5 separate regions of the Homo sapiens genome follow, and all the other regions are linked to region 4. The links come from fine-mapping of genetic effects on plasma protein levels. Region 4 holds a variant in brackets. A gene starts in each other region. All regions are shown on their forward strands.

Region 1 (5,098 bases), not on the chromosome of region 4:
TGTTGGCAACACCCACCGTAAGGAATGATATGTATGCGGTATTTTCCTAGCAAAGTAAAATTATATGGCAACAAATCTGCTTCTTTTGATTTAATGAAGAGAAAGAAGGAAAGAAGGGAAGGAGGGAGAGAAAAAAGAAAAGAGGAAAGAAGGGAATTTAAAATACAGCAGTAGACTGGGCGCGGTGTCTCACTCCTGTAATCCCAGCACTTTGGGAGGCCAAGGTGGGAGGATCACTTGAGCCTAAGAGTTTAAGACCAGCTCTGGCTAGCAACATAGTGAGACCCTGTTTCTACAAAAAAATTAAAAATTAGCCAGGTGTGGTGGCATGCAGCTGTAGTCCCAGCTACTTGGGGGTGAGGTGGAAGAACCGCTTGAGCCTGGGAGGTCAAGGCTGCAGTTAACCACGATTGCACCACTGTGCTCCAGCCTGAGCGACAGAATGAGATCCTGTCTCAAAAAATATATAAAAATATATAAAATAAAAAAAATCAGCAGTCACAAATAATAGAGATGGAAAAATAGTTGGTGAATAGCATGGAGTGTTTTGGAGTATATTTGTCTGTCTCCCTCATGGATGAAAAGGTTGAGAAATATTCTATGCATGGCATCCAGCACTTAAAATATAAAGAAGACATGTGTTAGCATGCTGTTCCCGAGTTATGAGGTTCAATTCCACGCTGATAAGCATATTTCACCTATTCAAAAATATAATACAAAATATTAAATTTGTTACATTAATTATGATCATATTTATACCAGACTGAATAGGAGGCAGGGTTCCCTACAGGACTAAATAAACTCAGTTTAATAAACTAAATTCATCTACTCTGGCTCCCACCTCCTCTGTCACCCAGCTGTAAGAGAGACTCAGACAATCACCAGAACCCTCTCTCCTTCCTAAGACATGTTGGTCACAGTTCCTGCACATTTTTCTTGCTCTCCATGACCTAGTATCTGCCAAAATATAATCGATGTTGGAAAAATTTTTACCCCCAGCCCCATGTAAGTATGTTGTATTTCCCCAACTAGTCACAGACTGAAAGCTGAGGACAAGAAGCCTGCCTTTCATATTGTGAGATATGCTCCCAATAATGGATACTCACCGAATATTAACTGGCTGCTGATGGAACAATGAGTTTTACTATACCTCTTTATCTACCTTGCACTCTTGTTGCCAATGAACAAACCACATCCTGGAAAGGATTTTCAAATGGAGAAAAAGTACTGAAAAAATAAATTTCCTCATTTGGAACAAAGGTTTGATTTGCTATGTACTTAGCCCTCTCTGAGGACCACCCATGTAATTTCTCCCCTGAATAATTTGTGAGGTTACCTCTCCTCTGCCCACTAAATGATTTGAAGGTAGATTATATGTGAACTCATCTTTTATCACACAATATCATGTATAATGCTTAGCACAAAGTAGGAACTCAGATATTGACCAACTCATTATTAGTTTTAAACTCATGACAACTTCAGGAGCAATGTGAAAGCTGAGGAAGGAGGTAGAAGCTAGCCCATTCTTGAAACTCTATGCTTGGTTTAGCTCTCCTAGCTCAATACCACAGATTCTGTCCAGACTCAGTGAATATTGAAACATAATAGACAAATGATATGTGTTCAGAGATCAAGGTTGAATTTATGCAACAAGCTTCTTTGTTATAACAGAATTTTCCTTTTGTTGATTAAATTGTTCCACTTTCTCTTCTTTTGCCCCAGGCAATGGATTTTTTTTGTGAAGCCAAGCTTTTAATGAACCAAGTTCATTAAATGTATTAATCATATACTATCTCTTCAGAAAAAAAGGCAAGAGATTGGCCTTTAGTGTGGCACAAATATATTTCTAGATTCAAAATATTTAAACAGGTTAATAGGACTAAAAAGAAACATTTTCAACCTTCTGATTGGCAGGCGGATTTTTCTCTACGTTTCAAAGTCATTCAAACTTAACACAGCTTGCAGATTTCCTAGTACACTGAAGGTGCTTAACGCATTGATTCCTGACAGGATAATTTCCTGGACAGATGGAATTTGGGATGGGAAGGACACTAATATAACTAGGGTACCATTCAAGAATTGTTTAGATGATCTTCTTAATATTACCTTTGAAACTGAAGGAACTAGAACACAGACCATAGTAAATTGTGTTTTAATTACTCCTTCTCCCAGTAAACTTTAGGATTTTTTTACTTTAAGATTGTCACTGGCTTTACTTGGTGGTGGCCCCAGTTCTGACTATAGTAGGTCAGCATGTGGAGTCATTATAGACAGCCTAAATCTATACAGCTTAGAGGAAGACAAAATAAATATATCTTACTCTTTTTTAATTCAATAGTGATTATTCAATCATCTCTCCCTTTTCCAAACTCACAAAACAGTTGCTTATTTTCTGACACTTATAATATCAACCTGTTTTTAAAAGAATTATGTATGCTTTTATATTTATTGCTATAATTTTATTGTTACTACATCTTTTATTATTACTGTAATTAGAATAAAGAGAACTTTATTATTTAAAATGAGAGCTGTGTCTCATAAATATTTGTATTCACTGTGCCCCTCCCCCCACCACCCATCTCACCAAAAAATTTAAAAAATAAAAATAAGGTAACAACCCAGAGGGCAGCCCAATGCCAGGGCTCTAGGCTTCCAATAAGTTTTTGTTGAATTAAATAGATCATTTCCCATTTATAAGCATGACATCATTCTTATACACCAGCCTTACTTTATTATATCCACACACCAATTTCAATGACGTCAAATTCACTTTCTAATTCACTTTCAGCTCTTCTTCTCCTCAAGGTTGTTTCTTTTCTCCCTAGAAAGGGTATTGCGTGGTCCCGTGCAAGGTAAGACTTGGGAGCAAACCCTGCATTCGGAAGCGTTGCGATGTGATATACTAATGAGGAAGTCAGGCGCTAAGCCCTAAGGGTTTCTTATTTCTCCACATTAGCCCACCACTGAGAAGGGAGAACCGGGGAAAGGCGACTGACCTGGCACGTTGGACCCTGTCCGCTTTGGTCCCGGCCACTTTGATCTCACGCGTCTGCCTAATCAAGTTCATCTACCGCCGCGATTGCCCTGATTCAAAGAACAACATTAAATGGTTTGATTATCGGATGGTCATTTCCCTCTTCCCTCCACCCCTGATCTAATTTCTAAACGCCAGTCTCTCGCCTCCCTCTCTAAACTTCCCATCAAAAGAGAATTAGCTCTTCTTCCTTCTTACCCTCGTTTGATGTGCAAATTTCCTTCTCTTTGCACATTTTTCTCGCAGTGGCGGGGGGAGGTGGGGGAGGAGGGCAACTGAAGGACCTCAAAGCCGGGGATCTAACTCAGATCTGCAAACTGCGACTCTAAAGGGTTAATGAGCAACTTGCACCCGCCACCTGGCCCTCTCAGAGGCGTCTTGCTAGAGCCATTGAATTACAGACCGGTTTGTATTTAATACTGAATATGACTTGTGTGCACAGTCAGCGAGTATTGGCATAAAGGAGAGGGGCAAAAAGTGCTTTTGCAGAGCCTATCACCCCTCGGCTCTGTAAAGTATTTCAGATCCGGATAATTCAACCCTTACTGCCAGGCAAGGGCACCCAAGTTCCCAGAGTTCCTGCTGCCGCCTGCATTTATTAAAGTCGTCTGCTATAACGCTCGCTGGTAGCCTTCACCCCGAAGGTGAGCCGGGCCAGCCGAGCGACTAAGCAAGGGAGGGGCGGGGTGAAGAGTGTCAAAGGCCCCCCTTCATGTACACAAACACACCCCCTCCCAGCCCCTCCCAGCGCTTTGAAATCCCATCCCGGCTTTGTTGTCTCCCTCCCAAGGGGCCGGAATGCTCCGGGCCCGCGGTATAAAGGCAGCCGCGGTGGCGGTGGCGGCGCAGAGCTCTGTGCTCCCTGCAGTCAGGACTCTGGGACCGCAGGGGGCTCCCGGACCCTGACTCTGCAGCCGAACCGGCACGGTTTCGTGGGGACCCAGGCTTGCAAAGTGACGGTCATTTTCTCTTTCTTTCTCCCTCTTGAGTCCTTCTGAGATGATGGCTCTGGGCGCAGCGGGAGCTACCCGGGTCTTTGTCGCGATGGTAGCGGCGGCTCTCGGCGGCCACCCTCTGCTGGGAGTGAGCGCCACCTTGAACTCGGTTCTCAATTCCAACGCTATCAAGAACCTGCCCCCACCGCTGGGCGGCGCTGCGGGGCACCCAGGCTCTGCAGTCAGCGCCGCGCCGGGAATCCTGTACCCGGGCGGGAATAAGTACCAGACCATTGACAACTACCAGGTGAGAGGGGTCGGGCACTCAGAGGATGCTCTGACCTTGAAAGGGTCCTATCTGGAGACGAGGGAGTAGAACGTGCTGAATGTGTGCGGTTCAGGGAGCATTTGGTAACCCTGCATTTGGGAGCAGTGGGCAGTAACAGGTTTTGGAGAGGTGGACAGATAAGGACTGTGATCAGCGCCCGGGTCCAAGAGGGCGGGTACCTGGACGTCTGGGTGCCTCACCCTCTCCCCGAACCCTTCCCACAGCCGTACCCGTGCGCAGAGGACGAGGAGTGCGGCACTGATGAGTACTGCGCTAGTCCCACCCGCGGAGGGGACGCAGGCGTGCAAATCTGTCTCGCCTGCAGGAAGCGCCGAAAACGCTGCATGCGTCACGCTATGTGCTGCCCCGGGAATTACTGCAAAAATGGTGAGTCCTGAAAGCTCCCTTTCACACTAAAACTGTCCAGCCTTTGAGCGTCTATGAATTGGGCGGGGGCGGGGGGTTGGGGGGGGTGGGGGGAGAAATCTCCGCCCTGAGAACACTGCGGCGCCACCTGCAAATGGGTGTTCAGCATGCAGGATTCCGCTGAAGTATCTTCATTGCAAGTGTTTAATCGGGAAGAAGAGAGAAGTTGGGAGGTCTCTGAGGTCCTTATCTTCCTCCGTGTCCCTCAATGATTCAATACAACGGTTCACCTCGTAGTGGACTCTTCCATAAAAATTTGTCTGGGGAGAACCTTGAGGTCAATTGAGAAGGGGGATGATGAGGAGGACGATGGGATCATACAGATATCAAAGAAACCAGCTTTGGCGTTCAGCTGTCCTTTTCATTTTTCTTATT
Region 2 (5,100 bases), not on the chromosome of region 4:
AGCCTAAGCTGGCGTCTATTCCTTGTCCTCAGAGGAGCCTCAGCCTAGCCTGGACTGGGTGCCCAACTCCCAGCATGGAGGCCCCAGCCACAGTGGGACCACTCACTGCGTCCATCCCACTGCTGTGGTTCCTACTTCCCCACCAGGTCCGACTGTCATTGCTGAACTGGACCTTGTATGATGTGACCCAGTCATACCTGGCAGGAGAGGTGGAGAGAGATCATCGGTGCCCCCAGGACTCCCACCCCAGTCCTTCTGTGACCTCCTGACCTAGGGTTAGTCTGCCTCACCTCCAGACAGAGTTCCTGCCCTGTGTGATAACACCCGAGAAGCGGGTGGGGTGCCCAGCGTCCACCTGAAACCATGGATCGGCGTCCTGCTCCTCAGCACACCAGGCTCCATCATATAGATCGCCGTCCTCCAGGCCTGACTGCAGACACAGGACATGGTGGTCAGGCCCAGTTGGACAGAGTGGGGCAGGCCAGGACAGAGAGGAGGCAGGAGAGAAGCTCCCAGGGGCTGCCTTCCCTACCCTGAGACCATGGCTCCGAGCCAGGATTACTGACCTGAATGTTGAGCCGTCCTCGGTGTGGTCCAAGACCAAAGGACTGGCTGCTGGATGCCTCAAGCCGGCTATCTGAAACTCGCAGGGACTCCAGACCCAAAGGAGGACAGCCTGGGGCGGGGATAGAACAGTGAGACAGGACCAGAGGGAGGGTAGCCAGGGCAGGTGGGAAGCTGAGCCTAAGGTTGCTCCTGCGCTAGGCAAGCAAGGGGCGTGCCGGTGCCCATGAGGCCAAGAGCTGTGCTGGTAAAGTGCCCCAGGGGCTGCAAGTCTGGGCTGGGCCCCTGGAGAGGAAGTACCTGTTTCTTGTTTCTCAGCGGGGTCGAGGGTCCCTGCTGGAGTGGGGGTCACAAGGGGCCCGGCAGTCACCAGTGGGGTGGGGCGAGTTAGAGTTAGCTTCTTCCGCTTCTTCATAATGACCTTTTTCTTCTTGATGACTCGAATCCGGACATGCTGTTCTGAGGTCCCTTGGGGTCCGAGAGGCACAGCATGGGGGAAAGGAAGAATGGTGAAACCCCGGATGGAAAGGTCTGCCAGCCCAAGAAGACATGTGAGCCCACAGCAGGCCACACCACCAGGATCTAACAGCCTTCACAGGACATCAAAGGCCTGCAATCTGACCCCAACCTGCCTCTCCAGTCACTTCCTTGGCTCCTCCTTCTCCTCCCTGATGTAACTACATGCTTGGCCAGCCTCCCCTGTGAACCTCTAATCCAATGGAGAGCTGCACCCAGCCTCTAGAAACTGTTCGGTTGCTCCAAAGAGCTGAGTCTGGCACTTTACCTCCGGGCCTCTGCACTAGCTATCCCCTCCCCTGTAATGCTACCCCTCGCCTCTGATTTTTTCACCTAATTCCCATTCTTCCTTTGCATCTCAGCCCAGATGCCTTTCCAAGGAGGCTTTCTTAGCTCCAGACTCAGCATCATGCCCCAAAACCCCTGTGCCGCTTCCATTGTTGTGTCTGCTCTCTGGGCTCAGATGGCCTGTCCTGGAATCCATGTCTGCCTGGGTGTCGAGGCTTTCAGGGCTGGGCCTGCCCGCCGGCCCTTCAGCACAAGGCTCTGCCCAGGCAGGTGCTGGGGGTACCCATCGAAGCTCCACAGCTGCCTCCAGAACAGGCTGCCCATTTCCGCATCTGGTGCCCCTGTGCCTTTGCCCGCCGCTTCCTTCTTGGCAGCCCTCTCTCTCTCTCTCTCTCCAGACTCCCCTGACTCGGGGACATCACCCTTCAAGACCCTCCTCCACTTGCCTCCTCTAGAAGCCCCTGAGTGCCCTCCGCTTGCGCTCCTCCTCTCCTATTCCACATCTGGAAAGCTGGGAGGTCGGGCTGCCTTCCTCTCCCGCTCTGCCCCATCCTCCCGGCAGCCTCAGCGAGGGGCTCTCCCTTCTTTCCTTTTGTTCTTTCTCTCCAGCCCTCGCCTTCAAACTCTCTCCTACGCAGTCTTGCTCTGCACCTTGAGAGCTTCTGCCCCTCTGTCTCCCCTCCTGCCAGTTCTGGCCTGTTTTGTCTTTGGTGAAAAGGGAAGGTTTGGGGCTTGGAAGAGGCAGCATCCCACTGGCGCCTGTCCTGGGACTGCTGACTAGGTCTGGCAGGGAACTGGGGCTGCCGAGTCAGCAGCCATTGCTCCCAGCAGGGAGTTGAGGGAGTGTGAGTGTGTATATGTGTGTGTGCACTGTGAGTGTGAGTGTGCGCGCGCGTGCACTGTGTGTGCGCGCACGCGCGTGTGAGTGTGCGTGTGTGTGCATGCGTGTGAATGCGCGCGCGTGTGAGTGCAAGTGTGCGCGTGTGTGAATGTGTGTGAGTGCGCGCGCGTGTGTGCGCGTGAGTGCGAGTGTGCGTGCGGGGTGAGTGTGCATGACTGTGAGTGTGCGTGGGTGTGCGTGTGCCCGCGTGTTAGGGAGGGATCGCCCCACGGGGCAGGAGAGCCGGGCAGTCGGCTTGCGGGGGAGCGGACCGTCGGTCGGGGAACTCACCGTTAGCTGTCTCCGCCGGCGGCTGTGCCGGGCTGCTATGCAGGGCCGGGGTCGAGCCTGGGACCTTGGTGGTCCCGGGCTGCGCGAGGCCCAGCACCGAGTTCCTGGGCGCCCCCAGAGCCGGGCCGACGGCCGGCGCGAAGGCGGCCAGGGCGAGCAGGAGCCCCCACATGGCGGGGATTGAGTGCCAGGGGCGCGCGGGCTACGGCGGGTGGCGGGTCGGTCTCTTCCTGCCGAGTGCGCCGAGCCCCCCGCCCCTTCCTGCCCCCCGCCCCTCCGCAGCCTCCTGCCCGCCCACAGCCCGCTGCCCGCCTCGGACCTCGGAGAGGAGGAGAGGGCCGGGAGGAGCGAGCGGGGCTGACCTCCAAGGGGCCGCCCCAAGTCTCAGGACCGCCGACTCTGCCCTTCCTCTCCGCCGTCTGGGGCCAACCCGCCTCGTTGGCGCGCTGCGCCTTTATAGTCTGCAAAGCCACACTGAAGAGACCAGAGATCACCTGGTGGCCATCAAGTCGACCAACAGGAGGCAAAGCCCCTTATCTGAGCAATTCAGAATGACACTTCCCTATTGTCTAAAGCCACATCTGGTACCAAGCTTCCGTCCCAAGAATTTATAAGTAACTAGAATTTCTGTACGTTTCCGGAATGAGTGCACGTTAAGACCCATTGTGCAAACTTTGCTGACATCAAGGCACCAAAATATCGACAAATGTAACCATTTACCATGACCTAAGTGACTAATGTGGTCCAAATTACCCTGCAGTTCCCCGCAGGGAGCTCAGTCCTCTCTTGCTGAAGCGCCTACTGCGCTCTGCTGCCTCGTCCTTTCCGTCTAATAAAACTTTCCTTTTCAGACCTACACGGTTGTTGATAAGTTCTTTTACCACCCGGGAGCCAACCACTTCCCGGTTCCGGAGCTCTGACACCTCGCCTGGCATCTTGGTGGCCCATACGGGGACTTCACTGGGATTTCCCTCTTCCTTTTTCTCTCTGCTTCCTTCCACGGTCTGGTTCTTTACTCTTTGGGGAACTGCCGGTCCCGGTGGAGGCAGCTCTTCTGTGGGATCCTGAAGCCCTAGAGAAGGGATACCTGGCTGTCCTTGCCCTTAGGGGTGAGGGACTGGCCAGGGCTCTTTTCTGTTTTCGGACTGCCAGTGAACCAGCTTGAGTTCTCGTTGGCAACTGACAGTTTCTGGCCAAGCGCCATCCCCCGGTATTACCCCAAGGCCAAGACAAAAGAGCTATTGCCTGTCAGAGTGGCAGGGCACTTTCATTTTAACACTCCATAAGCCTTGTCCTGGAAGCGGTGGATCTCAATTCTACACAGGGATGCCTCAGGGATCTTGTAGTTCCTTGTCTAAACCCAACTTCGGTTCAATTAATTCAGTTCCATCCAACTCGCCCTTGGATTGCCTCCTTAAAAATGGTCCCATTGGTCTCATTTTGACCCACAAACTCTTAAAAATAAGCATATAAGGCTGAGCACAATGGCTTATGCCTGTAACCCCAGCACTTTGGGAGGCCAAGGCAGGCAGATCACCTGAGGTCCGGAGTTAAAGACCGGGAGTCTACTAAAAATGCAAAACTTGGCCGGGCACAGTGACTCACACCTGTAATCCTAGCACTTTGGGAGGCCGAGGCGAGTGGATCACCTGAGGTCAGGAGTTCGAGATCAGCCTGGCCAACATGGCGAAACCCTGTCTCTACTAAAAATACAAAAAAAAAAAAAAAATCAGCCAGGGGGCTAATTATATGTGGCGGGCACATATAATCCCAGCTACTAGGGAGGCTGAGGCAGGAGAATCACTTGTACCCCGGGGGCGGAGGTTGCAGTGGGCCAAGATGGCGCCACAGCACTCCAGCCTGGGCGACACAGCAAGACTCTGTCTCAAAAAATACAAATAAAAAATAAATAAGAGTTTAAAAAGCATATCCTTTTTTCTAATATTGCTTGGGTTCAATACAAGCTCCCTAATCAATCAATTTGGCCAATTAATGAAACTTGGGATTGCAATGCTACTTTACAACTTAACTGATTTTTTGCCGGAACCTTGGAAAGGATTCAGAAGTCCCATATGTTCAGGTCTTTTTTGCTTTATCCCCAAATCCAAACCCAAAATTACATACAAATTGTCATGTATGCTTCCAAGGAACGTCCTCCCTTCCCGGTTCTGATGTCTTAGATGATCCTTCCTTTTGCCTATTACATCCTCCTCAACCTGCTCACTCTTCACCTACACCCTCTCCATCTGCTCCATTCCCTAGTCAATCTCCCACCCACATACCCAAATACTTTCTCCCCTTCACATACTCTCAGGGGAGTCACATATGCTACTAGTACAGAGTCCTCAGAAAAATCCCCAAAATATTTTGCCTCTCCCTAAGGTGGCTAATGAAGATTTGGGAACAAGCCAAGTTCATGTCCCTTTTCTGATCATGTCTGATCTTTTGCAAATTCAATCCAAGTTGGGTTCATTTAGTCAGGATCCCTCTAAGTTCATTCAAGAATTTCAGACTTTAACTGTTGCCTTTGATTTAACCTGGCAAGATGTATTTGTGGTATT
Region 3 (5,085 bases), not on the chromosome of region 4:
TAGTCTTTCAGTGATTTGAATCTTGATTCAGTCTTTTGTTATTTTAGTGGTACTTCCCAGCTTTGTGTCATCTGTGGATGACATATGAGTCTTGCTTCTTCATGCCAATTTAAGAAGACTGAACGGGAATAGGTCAAAGGCATGGCCATGAGCGATTTCTCTCCAGCTTTTCATGGTGTTCAGCTTCAAATCTATTCACATATTGGACCTGCAAGCCATCATCTTATCCACAGGCTATCATCATAGGTGAATGTAGATTGGGTTAGGGTGGCCAAGCTGAAGGTGAGATATTTTTAAAAAGCTCAAGAATGTTGGAGAATCCATGGGAAGCAGTGGGAAACTGAAGACAGGACTTAGGGAAGCCAAGGTTAGGGATGGCTTTCTTACCATCTGGGTTTTCCATTCTCCCAAGCTAAAGTCCACAGCAGGCAGCAGGACAGGTGTAGGCAAAGGGTGAACCTCTGGGCACTGGCTCTGTTGAAAAAGATTGGTGGGGGGAGAAGGGAGCTGAAATAGAGAGAGCTATGGTAGCCTAATAAGCAGGCTAGTCCTCCATGAGTACTATCTCTAGACGAGAGCTTTTAAATGCGGGCTGTATTGTGAAGAATAATCCTTGTCAGAGAGTGTGATCAGTAGGTGGGGACAATATGGGAAGAATAGTCATTGGGTCAAGGAGTTAGAGGAAGTGATGGTGTCTTCCTGGGAGTATGGGTGTCTTACCAGTTACGCGGATAAAGGGGATAATGTTGGGAGTTCTCACCAGTCTGCTGTGAAGGACATGGGAGTCACGAAGCAGTTTACTGAGGACTCGGAGGTCACAAGCAGGAGGAGCCGGGCTGGACAGCGTTAGCCTTGCAGTTAGGAGAAGCATGACCACGAGGAGCAATTCTTAGATGAGGAGAGGTGAGGTTGAAAGATGAGGAGGAAATCATTGTCAGCTGGTATTCCAGGAATTCCCATTCAGGACCCAGACCTGAAACCCAGGGAATCCACCCCTCAGACCCCTTATTTTTGGGAGAATGGGTTCCCCCAGCTTCCTGCCCCCTGCAGCGTGTCTCCTTTCTCTCTCCCCTTCTGTCATGTTTCCATATGGCCCTAGCCCCTCAGGTGTGTTCTCACCAGTCAGCTCCATTCTGGCCGGGGTGTCTGGCTGGCGTGGCTCCCTGTTTGGGGCCTCTCCCCTGAATCCTTCCTGGGGCCATGGAGGCGGCTTAGGCTCTTGCACTTCTGGGCAGAGTAGGGTGGGGCAAAGGCGGGCCAAGGGTGAAGAATCTATCCTGAAAGTAGCAAGAAGAGTGAACATTTAACCAAGTTTCTAGGAAGAGACTGCCTGGCAGGGTGAACAGATGCTGGGGAGGGCTTGAGATGCTGACCAGCCTGGAACTGCCAAAGCCCTGAATTCTCTCACATTTTCTTGTGATGAAAGCATATGGTGTGCCGGGTGCAGTGGCTCATGCCTGTAATCCCAGCACTTTGGGAGTCCAAGGCGGGTGGATCACCTGAGGTCAGGAGTTCGCCACCAGCCTCACTAACATGGTGAAACCCCGGCTCTACGAAATACAAAAAAACTAGCAGGGTGTGGTGGTTCATGCCTGTAATCCAAGCTACTTGGGAGGCTGAGACAGGAGAATCGCTTGTACCTGGGAGGCGGAGGTTGTGGTGAGCCGAGATCGCACCATTGCACTCCAGCCTGGGCAATAAGAGTGAAACTCCGTCTCAAAAAAAAAAAAGAAAGAAAGAAAGAAAGAAAGAAAGCAAGAAAGCATATGGTGTCTCCTTTTTGTCAGGACTCCTCAGTGAATCGGACATGGATTTGGTGCCACCTACCCCTGCTGAGAGCAGCAGGACATGATATGTATACACACATATCTTAATTAGCCTTAAATTCTGAGCAACCTTGGTTGTTAGGTCAGAGAAAATCTGGGATGGGGATAGAGAAGGAAAGTATTGTGGCTTCAGCCTGGAGAAGAGAGTGGAAAATGGGATGCAGGGCCTGGGTGAGGAACTGGCAAACGGGCGCAATATGTTGAGGGGTAACTTCTGCGGTGGGGAGTGGGGCTGGGGAGGGGAACTGCACAAAGCTGTAACTGGGACCACTAGAGGTCAGGATTAAAAGGCGGTATGGGAGAAATTAACCTCTATTCTTTCCCTATCTACCCCCACACATAAAGCCACTGGAGCTTTTCTCTGGACTCCAAGTCCTGAAATACTCCATTATCTGAGGCCAAGAGATGGGCTAACAGTTCTGGGACTTCCTTCCTGAGACCAGCTGCCCAGGAACGGGCACCTGCTGGGTGATGCCCACCTTAGGGGCTTACCTTGTCTTAGGCGCCCACTAACATATCTGTCTCATAGCTCACACCTGCCTCCCTGCCCCCTTGGCAGAACCCCTTCCGGTTCCTTCACAGGACCCCCCACATGGCTTCCTCCTCCTTTCACAAGTTGTGCAAAGAGGCTTGCACCTGATTCAATATTGGGATTTCCTGTAGGTCTGTCAACATGAGTGGGCCCTCCTCCCATTACCCTCTCCTTGCGCCCTGGCTTGCCTGGCCCAGCTTCCCCAGCACCAGATTCAGAACCTTAAGCTAACGAGGAATGACCAGCTAAGAATGGGGATTGGGGCTGTGTCCATCTTACTACTGTGTTTGCTAAGCCCTAAGTGCAGCTCCCTCTCTTATTTTCTCCCTGGGCTCATGTCCCCTTTCCTTAGGGCCAGCCAGGGCTGTGCTGTATTCCACCAAGTAAGTGATCAGTCCCTCAGAAACCAGCACCCCACCCCCTACCCCTGCTCTGCCCTGCTCCTCCCATTCTGGGAAGGCTACACTCTTCTCGACAAAGGTCAGTGCCTGTAGGTTCCAGTTTGCCTGCCCCTCCCCCAGCTGGGAGCCCATTTCTCTTTGCTGTCCTTTCTACCCTCACATAACCCCACACCCTGCTGGCCACTCACCGGGTGGAGAAGGGCTCCAGGACCCAAGTGCACAGCAGGCAGCCCTCTGGGGAGCAGATGGGTAGGAAGACATGTGGCGGTGGGGCACAGCCCCTCCACAGCAGCAGGTCATACGCCTGCCTGGGCCACTTCTGCCCAATCAGAGAAGGGAGCCACCAGACACTGGTGAAGGCCCCCGGAAGTGACGCCTTCTCTTCCCTGGAGCCCCTGCCTGGACCAGGGTCCACTCCTCCACCCACACACACCACGGAGAAGATTTGGATAGGGGGATCCATCTTTTCCTGGACATGGGCAACCTGGGACCTGGAGGGGGACAGGAGCAGAAGTTTTTTTCCAGGAGGAATCTGGCAGGACATTTGTGTTGCTGGGGAAGAAGCACAGAGGTCTTGTTTAAGATTGGTGGGGTTTTCACTCCCTGGCTATCCAAATTTCTTTTCCCTGGACATCATACCTGCTGCTGAAATCCAACAGGATGCTTGCTTTCCTGCTTTTCTTTCTGTAATCCCCTAGGGAGTCCTATCTTGTCATTCCCCCTTTCGAAGTGGGAACACGGATATTGCCCACATGAGAGAAATCTCCTGTTATGGGTTGGTGTTATGGGGAAAGGGTTTGGACGGGTTGAGTGGACTGTCAGGTGCGGGGCACATGTATGTGCGCACACGTGCACTGGGTTAAGCCTGAGCTTAGGTGCTCGTCTGCTGGGGTCCAGTGGCTTAGATGGCTACACACACAGACCTCTGTGCCCAGGGCCCTCCTTTGCTTGTTCTGTCTCCGTCTTCCATCTCCTACCGTTCCACATGTGACAAGAGGAATAACCAGGCCCATGTGTCCCTGTCTTAGGAAAGACAGCTGCTGGACCTCCCCCGCAAATACCTCCCTGCTGGCCCCCCTTTTCCTTTGGCCCTGGCTCTAGCTCCTTTGCTTTCTTCCCAGTCCCAGTCTCCCCACAGTCTCTGTCCTCAGGGGCTTCCTGGCCTGACCTTGATCCCATCATCCCCCTGTCCCCCAGAACTTCCTCAGGCTCTCTCCTGTTCCTCCTCCCCAAGGATGGGCATGTCTGCTGAGAAGTGTGGCCTAGATCCTGGAATTTTCCCGTCCAGCCAGACGAGATGTCTCCCAAGATTAGGAAGGAGGGTGCTGGGATAGCTGGGAGGATAGTGGGTGTGTGTGGGAGGGAGAGACAGGAGACAGGGAGGCAGGCATGACCAGGGAACCAAGAGAAAGGAGGCTGGGAGTGGGCTGGAGAGGCAGAGGGTCCCTTGGGTGAAGGAAGGGGGTGAGAAAGCAAGAGGGGACTGTCGAATGCGCCTGAGGATAAGTTACAATGAGAGGGAGATACTGTCACTCCACAGAAGGGGGAATGCTGCCGGTTTCTGGCTAGGTCCCTGTCCTGGGTAACACAAGAATGAGGAGCGACCTCAGAGAGAAGGTAGGGAGGCAGGCTAGGCAGTGAGAGAGGGTGGTGAGGGTTTGGGGGGCGCTGTGGGCCCAGGCAGGGGGAGATCGGCTGATGGACCTTTCCTGTACGTTGTCATCTTTAAAGACAAGTCTTCATCCTTCGGGCGGAACCGGGTCCTCGCTCACAGAGCGGTCCAGGCCTCAGGCCTAGCCTCTGCCCCTCCCTAGCCTGAGGCTCCCTTCCTGGGCTGGACACCGACCTCCTGGTCCAGCCGCCCTGTGGCCGCCAGCAGCGGGGGGCTCCGGGCCCGCCTCTCCTCCCCCTCTTCGCGCCCCCTGGTCCCTCCCCTCCCCCTCCCCCGCTCCCCCTTCCCCTCCCGCCCCTCCCTCCTCCCCTGCCCGGTCCCAGCCCCTCCCTCCCCTCCCCCACCCGCGATCCGGGCCGCTGCTGCTGGGTCGGACCCCCCGGGCTCAGCCCGGCCCCTCGCCGAGCTGCCGCCGCCGCCCCGTTTGCTGAGGAGGAGGCCCCCGGCCGGGGCGTCGGGCGCGGGGCATAAAACGGGCCGGAGCCGGCGCCCGGGGCAGTAGAGCCGCGTACGGCCCGGGTCAGCGCCCGCCCGCCCGCGCTCCTCCCGGCCGCTCCTCCCGCCCCGCCCGGCCCGGCGCCGACTCTGCGGCCGCCCGACGAGCCCCTCGCGGCACTGCCCCGGCCCCGGCCCCGGCCCCGGCCCCCTCCCGCC
Region 4 (5,100 bases):
TCTCAAATCTCAAGCCTATTAACCCAAATAACCAGGCAGCTGGTCTCTGCAGTGAAGGAGAAAAGCACATGAAGGCTCCTGCCAGTTTAAGCCCAGTTGTCTATTCCTAACCAGCTTCCATTCTCCCAGGAGTCAGTCAGCTTTCTGCTATACTTCAAAACTTCCACCCCCTACTCTATCTCTCAAAGTTCTTATCATACTAGCACTCTAGCACTACCTCCAGGATATCTTTCCCAAATTCATGAACACTTGTTGAGCACTACGCTGACAGGCATTGTGTAAAGTGCTGGGGATACAAAGATGAGTAAGGCACAGTTCCTACCCTTATGAAAATCACAGAGTAGCAGGGGAGACAGACACACATAAATACAGTACAACGCATTAAGTGCTATCAGAGGGATTATAAGGGACTATAAATTAAGTGCTATGAGAACTTAGGGAAGAAAGCAACTCATTCTATCTTGCATAGAGAGAGGAAAGAGAGCAGTATACATGGGAAATTTCACAGAAGAGGTGGATTTTGCCTTATCAGAGGACAAATTTCCTGGTAGGGAAGAATGGTAGGAAAGATAGTTTGGGACCAGATTACATAACTCTTAAAAACTTTTTTAAAATTTTAAGAATTTTGGCTCAGCATGGAGGCTCTCACCTGTAATCCCAGCACTTTGGGAGGCTGAGGCAGGAGGATCTCTTGAGCCTAGGAGTTCAAGACCAGCCTGGGCAACACAGGGCGACTCAGTCTCTACAAAAAGAAAAATCAAAACTTAGCTAGCCATGATGGTACACGGCTGCATTCCCAGCTACTCGGGAGGCTGAAGTGGGAGGATTGTTTGAGCCTGTGAGGTTGAGGCTACAGTGAGCTGAGATCACGCCATCACATGTGGCCCACTCTAGCCTGGGCAACAAAGCAAGATCCTGTCTGGAAAAAATTTTTTTTAATTTTAAAATTTACTGCATAGACAATAGAAATCCACCAAACATCTCTGATGTTGCTTTTTGATGCTGGGAAATCACATGATGAAATTCACTTTACAAAGACATATTATAGCTATATCGCTCTAGTTATAATATGAAAGACTGATTTAGAGGACAAATCAGAGGACAATTTGGTAGTACATACATTTAAAATAGGCATATACTTAACCAAGCAATATGACTTCTAAGAATTTACCTAATAGAAATATTCATACAAATGCACAAGCAAGAGTATATGCACAAGACTATTACTGCAACATTATTTGTAAGAACAGAAACAGTTATTTAACATAGGAATCATTAAACAAAATAATATGTCCCCATAATGGAACATTATGTCGCCATTAAAAATGTGGTAGATACACACGTACTGACATAAAAATATGGCCATGAGTGAAAAAGTAGTTGTAGGACAATAAAAAATGATCTTTTATAAAGAATTTATCTAAATATTTGTATATGCAAAGAGAAAGGTCTAGAACAAAAGCCACTATCATTGGTTTCCCTTGGGGAGTAGAATTGGGAAGGGGCAACTTTCACTTTTTACTTCACATAGTTCTAATTTGTTTTTACATATATCTTCCATTTATATCTCAAAAAAGAAAACAATACAAATGAGGCAGAGATATTATTACAATACTGCAGCAAAAGACAATCTAGATTTACTAACTGTGCCTCTAAACAATTAGACCAGTCATTTTATTTTTCATTTCATTTTATTTTTCATTTTTAGAGACAGAGTTTCACTATGTTGCCCAGCCTGGACTCAAATTCCTGGGCTCAAGTGATCTTCCTGCCTCAGCCTCCCAAGTAGCTGGAACTATAGACAGAGCCACCGTGCCCAGCAGAAGTCATTTTATTTCTGACTCTTTGGTTTCTCATCTACAAAACGACCCACCTCAAACGTTGTTTAAAAAATTAAATAATGTGTGTTAAAGGGCCAATCACAATGTTTGGAGTACAAATACTTGCTGAATCTTCTAAAATGATAAAGGCCTGAGCCAGGCAGCAAGAAAAAACAGAATAGGTTTGAGAAGTAGAATTGACAGAATAGGGAGACTGACTGAGCAGAGAGGATGAAGAAGGTGAAGTCAAAGATGCCTAGTTCACAGTCAAGATTAAACAACTGACTGGCTAGTGACAGCCCTCATAGCAATAGAAGATGTAAGGAAAGAAACAGGTTTGGAAGTAAGGCAAAAAGTTTTGTTTTAACCCTATTAAGTTAGTGTTGCATACTTGATATCCAGGTAACTGGGCCCAGGAAATAGTTGGAGACACAGGGCTGGACCTCAGGAAGAAAAAATGTATCTGATAATATACACTTGGTAGTCATGGGAGTCAAAGAGCCCAAGGTAGACAGAGAGTGAAAAAGGAAATGAGAATCACACTTACCTTCTCTCCTCTCCTTTGAAACTAGACAACACGCCTCTTTCACTTTATTTTTTCTTTTTCTTTTTTTACTAGTTCCCTACAAAACAGTGGAGAACATAAACAACACGGCAAAGCTATACAGGTTCCTGAAACCTCAATATTTCCTCAACTTGTATATTTCCTGGTCTTTATTGAACTATAAGATGTTAAGCCTCTTGCACACACCCTTTCTTAGACAGTCTTGAGGAAGTGTTCTTAGTTCTTATCCCCAAGGAGAATATATACCCTCCATGAAAACAAGGACTTTTTCAATCTTCTCCTCTGTATCTGCCCTAGCACTTAATGCAATATCTGGTACGCAATTTTGCATATGCTGCCAATATTGCAATCACTGTCATTGTCACCCCAACAGTATCTTTTATTGAGAATTGACTATACGCCAAACAAGTACCTAACATATATTAACTAATTTAATCCTTGCCACAATACCAAGAATGAGTGACTATTATTACCCCCATTGTATAGATTAGGATTCAGGAGAGGTTAGGCTAACTTGCCCAAGAATAAAGAGCAAGTAAGTGAAATTGCAGGGATTCAAGCCCAGGCAATCTGA[T/C]ACCAGAGTTGGTGCTCTACAGGCTCAGTCTAGGCAGAATTATAACCAAAGCAACTATAAAGTACTAAACAGACAAATCAAAAGCATTGTGGAAATGAATTCCCATATGTGTGATTACGGCTGAAACACTGCGCAAAAAAATCAGTGGCTCCTGGATAAAAGAGGTATTATCAGTTACCTGTCAGCTAAAAAGCAAGGATAGCACAGGCACACTAGAAATGAGAACCATATCAGATTTAAAAACTGGTGCTTGTGGAGAGGCAGCAGAATATTGTGATGAGAAAGGCACGTTGGCATAATAATGAGACCAAGTAATATCAAAATCCAGGGAAGTAAGAAGATCCTTGAGGAAATAAAGATAGTATCTTAAGAAAATGGAACTACCAATATTGTACATCTGCCCTTTCTTTTTCATTTATGGACCTGACCAACCAGAACTGCCCCCTCTGAAATCTTAAATTCAAGAATTCCCACTTTCCAACCACAGCTCACTCCTGCTCTATCTGTTCTTCAACTTTATCAAGACCACAGTCTCTTGAGCCCCACATTGTCTCTTGGTCCACTTGCCTTCTGCTGATCTATCTTCCCCCCATACCCATCCTGGACTCCAGATGGCTCAACATTTGAACCACTCTCACCAGTACCTTCCATATCCATATACCTTCATCCCTCTGCCACAACTGCCCATGAAAATCCCAAACCTGTGCTAATGCTCTAGCCTGCCTTGTCTGCTCCTATACCCAGGTTCTACATAATTCCTGGTCTACAACCTCAGCTGAACCCTCATTGTCACCCATAAATTCTGTTACTTATGCTTGTTCAATTCCTTTACCTAGTCCCTTTGGGTTCTATTCAAGCCTTCATTCATCTCACACTCCCACTTCCCTTCCCTCCAGTCCCATCAGACATGCTTGTCTCATACTTGTAAAAAGGTTTTTGTAAGACCATCAGACATGGACTCTATCAGCTCCCTGCCTCCTCTTCCCCATCACTTGCCAATCTGACTCCTTTCAGAAAAGCCATATCCCACCCCAAGCCCCACCTTCCACCATAGGTTGCTGTTGTTTCCAACACTAACCCTGTTAACAGCCAGCTTGTTTGCAATGGGATCTTGCAGAATCAGTAATGAGGAGCAGAAAACAAATTAAGAACAAAAATTAAAAGGCAAGAAGACAAAGGTAAGTGCAGAAAAAACTGAGACAAAGAGAAAACAAAAGGTAAAATGGTAAAAACAAGTTCAAGTATATCAATGAATATGAAACTCATATATGAGCAAAATTCACCCTTTGAAATACAGGAATTAACAGACTGGATAAAAGGAAAAAATCCAGTTATGTGCCATTTATGAGAGACACATCTAAAACATAAATTGAAGGGAAAATTGAAAGTAAAAAGATAGGAAAAGATATACCAGGTAAATGCTAGCCAAAAGAAAGCTGAGGTAGCTATATTAATATCTAAAAGTAAAAAAGACAATAAAAGCTTTATAAAGGTTAGATAAGATCACTACATAGAGATAATAAATATGCACCCACTAATAAAACATCACTAAATATACAAAGGAACAAAAGAGAGAAATTGAAAAATCAACCATCAAAATGAGAGGTTAACATATACTTCTTTGTTGTTGCAATTATGAATGGTACAAGCAGATACAAACTAGTAAATATATAGACAAGTTGAACAACAAAATGAGCTTGATTTAATAGGAATACAAAAAAAGTCTATATCCAACTGGAGAATTACATTATTTTCAAGCACATATAGAATATTTACTCCCAAAACTGACCATGTACTAGGCTGTAATGCAAGTCTGCATAATTTTTTTAAAAAATCCTTCCCATACAGACCAGTCTCTGACTTCGAGGAAATTAAATTAAATAAGAAATCAATTTAAAATAAGGTAATTTCTTATCACAATACTTTTTTTTAAAATTTATAAAGACACTTCTAAATAACCCACATGTCAAAGAAGAGATCATAATGGTACTAAATCTATCCTTAACATCTTAGAGGAAAATACCTGCCTCCTACCTCACTACCATCACTACTCCCCATACTATGGCATAGAATGTTCTCTAGAAATTCAAAAAGGAAAATATGAAAGAAAAATACAGCTTTCATATGCAATAAACCAAGTG
Region 5 (5,100 bases), not on the chromosome of region 4:
AAAATGCGTCACGGGTCGGCGAGAGTCACGGCAGCCCTAACACTTTAATCCAGGCAGGGCTTAAATTTCACGCCCCGGAATCCCGGGCCGAACCCGTGGAGAGGTCTCTCCGTCTCACAAACACACGCACGCGCGCGCAGACACACACACGCGCACACACATCTCACTCACACACTCGCCCCACCCCGGGCTCCGGCCCAGCCGCGGCCCTAGCGCCGACTAAGACGCCCAAATCCAGCCGGCGGCCGGGAGAAGAAGCCTCCAGGGAAAGCGAGGGTTAAACTTCCACCTCGCGCAGCTCTCCGTGCCCTGCGGAGACCACCCTCACCTCTGGCCTCCCCCACTCCCCTCCCCGATTTTTAAGGAGAGTCGGGGGTCGCTGGGGAGCCTGAAGCACTAAGTTCCCACGACGGGGGCTGTGGAAAGTCATTCATCACAGCAAAGCTCCCGGGGATGGGGATGGGGATGGGGATGGGGGGGCGGGGACGCCGCGGTGGGAGGGTGCGGACGCCTGGCCCAGCCCCAGCTCGCCTCGCTCAGCCACCTGTAAGCAGGCCCGGGCGGGCGGGACTGCGCCGGCCCTGAGCCCCGCCGGGCTTGGGGACTGGGAACCGAGGGCTGCAGCTTGGCGCTGCCCACCCTGCCCGGCCAGGGGCTTCCGCAGCAGCCGCCCCTACCTATTTATCCGCCGCCCTTCTCTCCTCCCCAGGCTCCGCCGGCTCACACACACCCCCTTCCCCGCTCCCCGCACCCCGCTGCTGCAGCGCCCGCTGCGCCCCAGCTCCCCTTCCCCGGAGAGGACACTGCGCCCCCCGAAGTTTCTGCCCACTCGTCCACCTCGCTGCTCCCCGGTCCCCCCGAGGCAGAGCGACCGACGCAACACGCTGGAAACTCCCCACACACACTTAGGCATGGCAGAAAATAGAACCCAGTTGGGAAAATCTAAACATCGACCACCCTGGCAGGAACCAAAACGCTCTCTGCAGAGCCCGTGGCGCCCCAGCCGGCGGGGGGTGTGCGCCGGAGGAGCCGGCGCAGGGACGGGGCGCGGGGGCGGCACCAACCTCGGCCAGAACATGGGCGAGGTATCCGCAGCCGAGGAGCAGCAGGCAAGCCAAGGTCCTCATCGCGTCCCGAGGCGCTGGCTGCTCGGAGGAGAGGCGAGGCCGCGGGGCGGGCGCTCCAGCCGGTCTCCTGTGGCGGCGAAATTCAGTACCATCCCTTAGGGAGCGCGGCCCGGAGGAGGGTGGCGCGGGGAGCACGGAGCTGGCGGAGCGCGCCCGGCGCGAGCAGTGAGTGCGGAGAGGCAGGCAGCGCCAGCCAGGAGGAGGAGAAACAGGGAGTGCGCGCCCGCAGCGCGGGGAGCCTCCTGGGCCGCCGGGTAGGGGGTGGGGACGGAAGGGGCGGAGGGCGGGGGCTGGGCTTCTTCCTCGGTGCGTTCCCGGTGCTGGCCGCCGCCGCGCTCGCTCCCCGCGCTGGCTTCAGGAGCGACCCGGCCGGTAATTCTGCATATTTGCGGACATCAGCCCCAAGAAGAACTCCGGAGGGAGTCTGGGGCCGCCGCCGCCGCCGCCGCCACACCGATCACCTGCCTGGACGCCTGGCCCGGCCCCGGCTGCGAGCTGCGAGCCGCCCTGCGCGCCCACCGCCGGCCCCGCGCTCGCCTCCGGCCTCCTCTTGCAGCCGCCGCCCGGCCGGGCACAGCGCGGCCCAGCACCCCCTCCGCGGCGCGCCCTCGGCTCCGGCGCCGCGCTCCGCCCTCCGCTCGCCGGGGCCGGGCAGCGCCCGCGGCCGAGCCGCCTGGCAGCCACCACCCGCCGCCCGGGGCCTCGCTGCGCCGCCCGCGCGGGCCTGAGGGCGGGCGCAAGGCCGAGTCGGCGCCTCCGCCGCAGCCGCCGCCGGGAGAGGAGGAGGAGGAGTAGGCGCAGGCCCGGCTCGCCGGAGTTGGGCGGGCTCCGCAGGGCGCGCGTGTGGAGCCGGCCGGCGGCGGGGAGAGGGTTATAGCGCCGCCGCCGCGCCCCTCCCCCGCCCCCGCCCCCGCCCCCCCCCCCCGCCTCCCCCGGATTCCGGGCCTGGGACCCGCACCTCGGAAGCGCTCGGGGTTCGTGCGGACCCGGCAGGGCCCGGGCGCCGCCGCCGCGGCAGGGAGCACACACGCGCTCGCGCAAGCAGCTAAATCCATCAAAGCCCCGCGCCCGGCTCCGCGCCGGGGCTCCGCGCCCCTCCCTCGAGCTTGCCCACCCTCCAGTGCCAGCTGCAATCCTGCGGCACCGGGTGGGGAGGGAGGAGGCCGCCGCAGAAGCGCCGCCGTCGCCGGCTCGCCTCTCTCGGGCCCCAGCGGCGGCAGCGGGCAGCGCCCAGAGCTGCTGCGCCAAAAAGGGCCAGAGAGCCGGTCCCCGCCCCCGCCCCGGCGCTCCGGCCGCTCTCCACGGTTCGGATCCAGGGCCCCAGCCTTCCTCTCTCCATAAAAGGAGGGGGAGTCAGTCTTTGGGGAAGGAGGGGGGCGGGTTTGGGGCACTCACCTGGCGGCTGCCACGCGCCCCCGCCCAGGATCCGAGGCCTGGGGCATCTGAATGAGGACCCTCCACCCACATTTCCACTTGGGAGCGAGCTCCAGTCGGGGAAAGGGCCTGCAGCCCGCCTCGTCCCCACCCTGGGACCCCGCGCCCCCCAGTCCCCCACTCCCGCGCCGAAGGCAGGGCCGCGCCCTGAGCCGGGAAGTCGAGGGGATGGAAGGGAAAGGAGCCACCGGTGAGGGTCCCCCGGGTTCTGAGCCTCCCGCGTCGGGATCCGTGGGGCGCACAGAGCGCCACCTCCGGCCGAGGCGCAGCTCAGAGCGCGATGCGGGGGAGGAACGCGCGCGGAGGCCGAGGTCTGAGCGTGGCTAGACGGCTCCCACGCCGAGAAAGGGCGGGTGCGCCTGGGCTGGATGGATTTCGCCTCCCTAGACCAGGAGGGATTGGACCCTGACTACAGGTCCAGGTGCTCGTCAGTGCCCTGCCAGGGGGTCTACGCGTCCTGGTACCGGGTCCAGCGGGGTGGCGTGCTGTGCAGACCCCGAGGCTAGACGGCCTAGGCCCCTGGAGCCCAGGAGACGCTTCCTTGGGTGAGCAGCGGAGAATCCCGCCCGGCCCAGCCGTCACCCCCAACCCTGTCGATTAAACCCCTGCCCCCGTCGCGGTCGCCCTCCCTCCAGACAAAGGCCGTTAAGGCGCAGCCCCGCGGGCGGTCTTTCATCCCCAGCTAGGCCAGCTCTAGCATTTCAAAGGCCGAATCCGGAGAGCGCTTCGGGGGCTCTCCCCTTCCCCCAAATATTTGGGGAGCGACGCCTCTCCCTCCGCTCCCAGTGGGTCGCGTCTACACGCGCCCTTCCACACACCTGCAGGCCCCCTCCCCACGTCTCTCCCTTCCGTTGGCCGCAGCCCCACACCACGACCCCCGCGGTCAAGCATGCCCTCTGGGTGGTCAGGACCAAGCGGGACCGGGACAGAACCAGGGGAGCCTTGGAAACGTGGAGGAGCCCCTTAAAGCCAGGCCTTGTCCCTCCAGGGGGAACTTGCGGCTTGGGAGGGGACACCCACTGCATGGCTTCTGGAAAGAGCCGGACTCGCAGGGCCAGGACGCAGGCCGGACCCCGGCCTCATTCTTCGGCCAGTTATCCCGGAGTGGCGCGCATCCTGTCTTCCTGGGCCTCGGACTGCTCGCGCGCAGAGGGGGCCCGAGGACACCTCTGTGGGGTTAGAGGACTCGGTAAGACGGTGTGGAAGGCAAGGAGGAAGGTCGCGTTGTATTGGGGATGGGGTACCCGTCCCTCCCAGCTTGAGGGATCCTGGGGGTCCTCGCCGCCTCTGAGGGCCTAGATGGCTGCTTCCCTCGGCTCCCCTGCCCGGCCTGGAGCTACGGGTGCGCCCAGCTAGAGTTTAGGGCCACCTGGGGACGTGCAAGGGGCGCTGGAGCGAGGCGGGGGCTGGGGCGGGGCGTGGGTGCTTCACCCGCGGGGGACGCAGAGCTTAGGCGAAAGCGGTGCAGGCATCTCTCTAATCGCCGGCCGCTATTAAAAATAAAACCGCGACCCGTCGCCATGGCGACCACAACAACAGCGGCCGCGCGAGGGAGGCGAAAACTTGTGCAGCCGCGCGACAGCCGCCTTCTGGGGAGACTCGGGGCACGACGCACCCGGCGTGGGACTGGGACCCCCCTGCCCGGCCCCGCCACATTCTCCGCCGGATCCCCGGAAGACACAAGGAGACGTGGACCCCCACAGGCTTTTTTGGGGGGATTGGGCGTTGAAACCGCAGGGCTGACTTAACCAAGAGGTCACCGACTTGGATAAAAAACCCACGCCCGCGCGGACCCCCCTCCCCGGCCTTCGTTTCCATTCAAACTCCCAGCGTCCTCATTGCAGCCCCTGGGGAGGGGGACGGAGGGACGAGGTGGGTTTCAGGTGCTCGGCCCAGGAGGGGACGGTGCGACCCGGGCCCCGCCGGCGGGTTTTGCGCGCGGAGGCTGCGGCACCTGCCCCGCCCGCCCTGCCGCGATCCTTGCAGACGGGGGCGGTCACATGCTTCTTTCTGGCCAGGAATCGAGTTTCACTTCCAGCCGCTATTAGTCGGTTCACACAGTTCACTGCAAACATTTGATAATGAGGCTAAATATACTCCCGCGTCGGAGGAGGCGTGGGCGTCCCCGCCCAGGCCCGGGAGACAGAGGCGCTGACCCCGGGACAGAGCCTGGCTTTGTGCGGGAGGCAGACGCGCCCCGCGCGCCGCCCCCGAAACATTCGCACCCCATGCTGAGGCGCGCGTCTGGGAGTCCGTGGGCGCCCCGAGGTGAGCCCGGGGCCCCTGGCGGAAGCAGCGGGGAGCTCCCGGCGGGTGCGGGGAGGTGCTGGTGGGAAGCAAGGTGCACCTGGCGGCCTGGGATGTCCGGTCGCCCCCGGAGCCGGTGCATCCGGCCTCTCCCGGCGCGCCCCGACGTGCCCGCGGGCTCATAATTACCGTGAGTCAGGTGCCCCAAATAGGCCGAGCGAGGGGGGCCGTCGCGCAGCAGGGGCGGGTGGCCGGACGTCTGCCCGGGACTGGTTGCCTCCCGCCCCTCCCC

Which allele goes with the higher level. Positions count from the first base shown, and alleles are read on the strand shown. Strength reflects both the effect of a copy and how common the allele is.
For the plasma level of the protein whose gene starts at base 3,880 in region 1, allele T in region 4 goes with a higher level than allele C (strong association).
With allele C in place of T in region 4, the plasma level of the protein whose gene starts at base 2,766 in region 2 is lower (strong association).
With allele C in place of T in region 4, the plasma level of the protein whose gene starts at base 3,080 in region 3 is lower (strong association).
As copies of T replace C in region 4, the plasma level of the protein whose gene starts at base 1,972 in region 5 goes up (strong association).

Evidence for each region. PIP is the chance, under the fine-mapping model, that this variant and not a neighbour inherited with it causes the effect. Protein levels are from antibody-based Olink assays in UK Biobank. Linkage for the fine-mapping came from a reference panel and not from the study's own genotypes, which makes the PIPs less certain.
Region 1: DKK1 starts here. The variant in region 4 is fine-mapped to the plasma level of the DKK1 protein (UK Biobank, PIP above 0.99).
Region 2: CPXM1 starts here. The variant in region 4 is fine-mapped to the plasma level of the CPXM1 protein (UK Biobank, PIP above 0.99).
Region 3: it holds the start of THPO, and the variant in region 4 is fine-mapped to the plasma level of the THPO protein (UK Biobank, PIP above 0.99).
Region 5: it holds the start of PDGFA, and the variant in region 4 is fine-mapped to the plasma level of the PDGFA protein (UK Biobank, PIP above 0.99).

Annotation. Positions count from the first base shown.
Region 1 is chr10:52,310,402-52,315,499 of GRCh38, forward strand. It overlaps DKK1 (dickkopf Wnt signaling pathway inhibitor 1), which reads left to right and starts at 3,880. Exons shown (of 4, transcript NM_012242.4): 1 at 3,880-4,276; 2 at 4,522-4,684. The coding sequence starts at 4,034. PRKG1-AS1 (PRKG1 antisense RNA 1) reads right to left here and starts at 3,727. Exons shown (of 6, transcript NR_038277.1): 1 at 3,233-3,727; 2 at 2,997-3,084.
Region 2 is chr20:2,797,862-2,802,961 of GRCh38, forward strand. CPXM1 (carboxypeptidase X, M14 family member 1) reads right to left here and starts at 2,766. Exons shown (of 14, transcript NM_019609.5): 1 at 2,540-2,766; 2 at 865-1,032; 3 at 567-676; 4 at 291-430; 5 at 107-197. The coding sequence starts at 2,711. RefSeq lists enhancers at 348-1,335, 1,336-2,323, 2,324-3,309.
Region 3 is chr3:184,375,128-184,380,212 of GRCh38, forward strand. It overlaps THPO (thrombopoietin), which reads right to left and starts at 3,080. Exons shown (of 6, transcript NM_000460.4): 1 at 2,948-3,080; 2 at 1,120-1,277; 3 at 761-888; 4 at 388-474. The coding sequence starts at 1,132. CHRD (chordin) reads left to right here and starts at 4,927. Exons shown (of 23, transcript NM_003741.4): 1 at 4,927-5,085.
Region 4 is chrX:100,702,444-100,707,543 of GRCh38, forward strand. SYTL4 (synaptotagmin like 4) reads right to left here. Exons shown (of 20, transcript NM_001370165.1): 3 at 2,368-2,443; 4 at 650-742. Among named protein-coding and RNA genes, the nearest start is that of SYTL4, 27 kb to the right of the region's middle. The variant T/C (reference allele first, on the strand shown) is at 2,960.
Region 5 is chr7:517,875-522,974 of GRCh38, forward strand. PDGFA (platelet derived growth factor subunit A) reads right to left here and starts at 1,972. Exons shown (of 6, transcript NM_033023.5): 1 at 1,065-1,972. The coding sequence starts at 1,127. It overlaps PDGFA-DT (PDGFA divergent transcript), which reads left to right and starts at 2,517. Exons shown (of 3, transcript NR_033963.1): 1 at 2,517-5,100. RefSeq lists enhancers at 764-1,685, 3,530-4,451 and silencers at 942-1,031, 1,492-1,631, 1,912-2,001, 2,102-2,441, 4,107-4,186 and 2 more.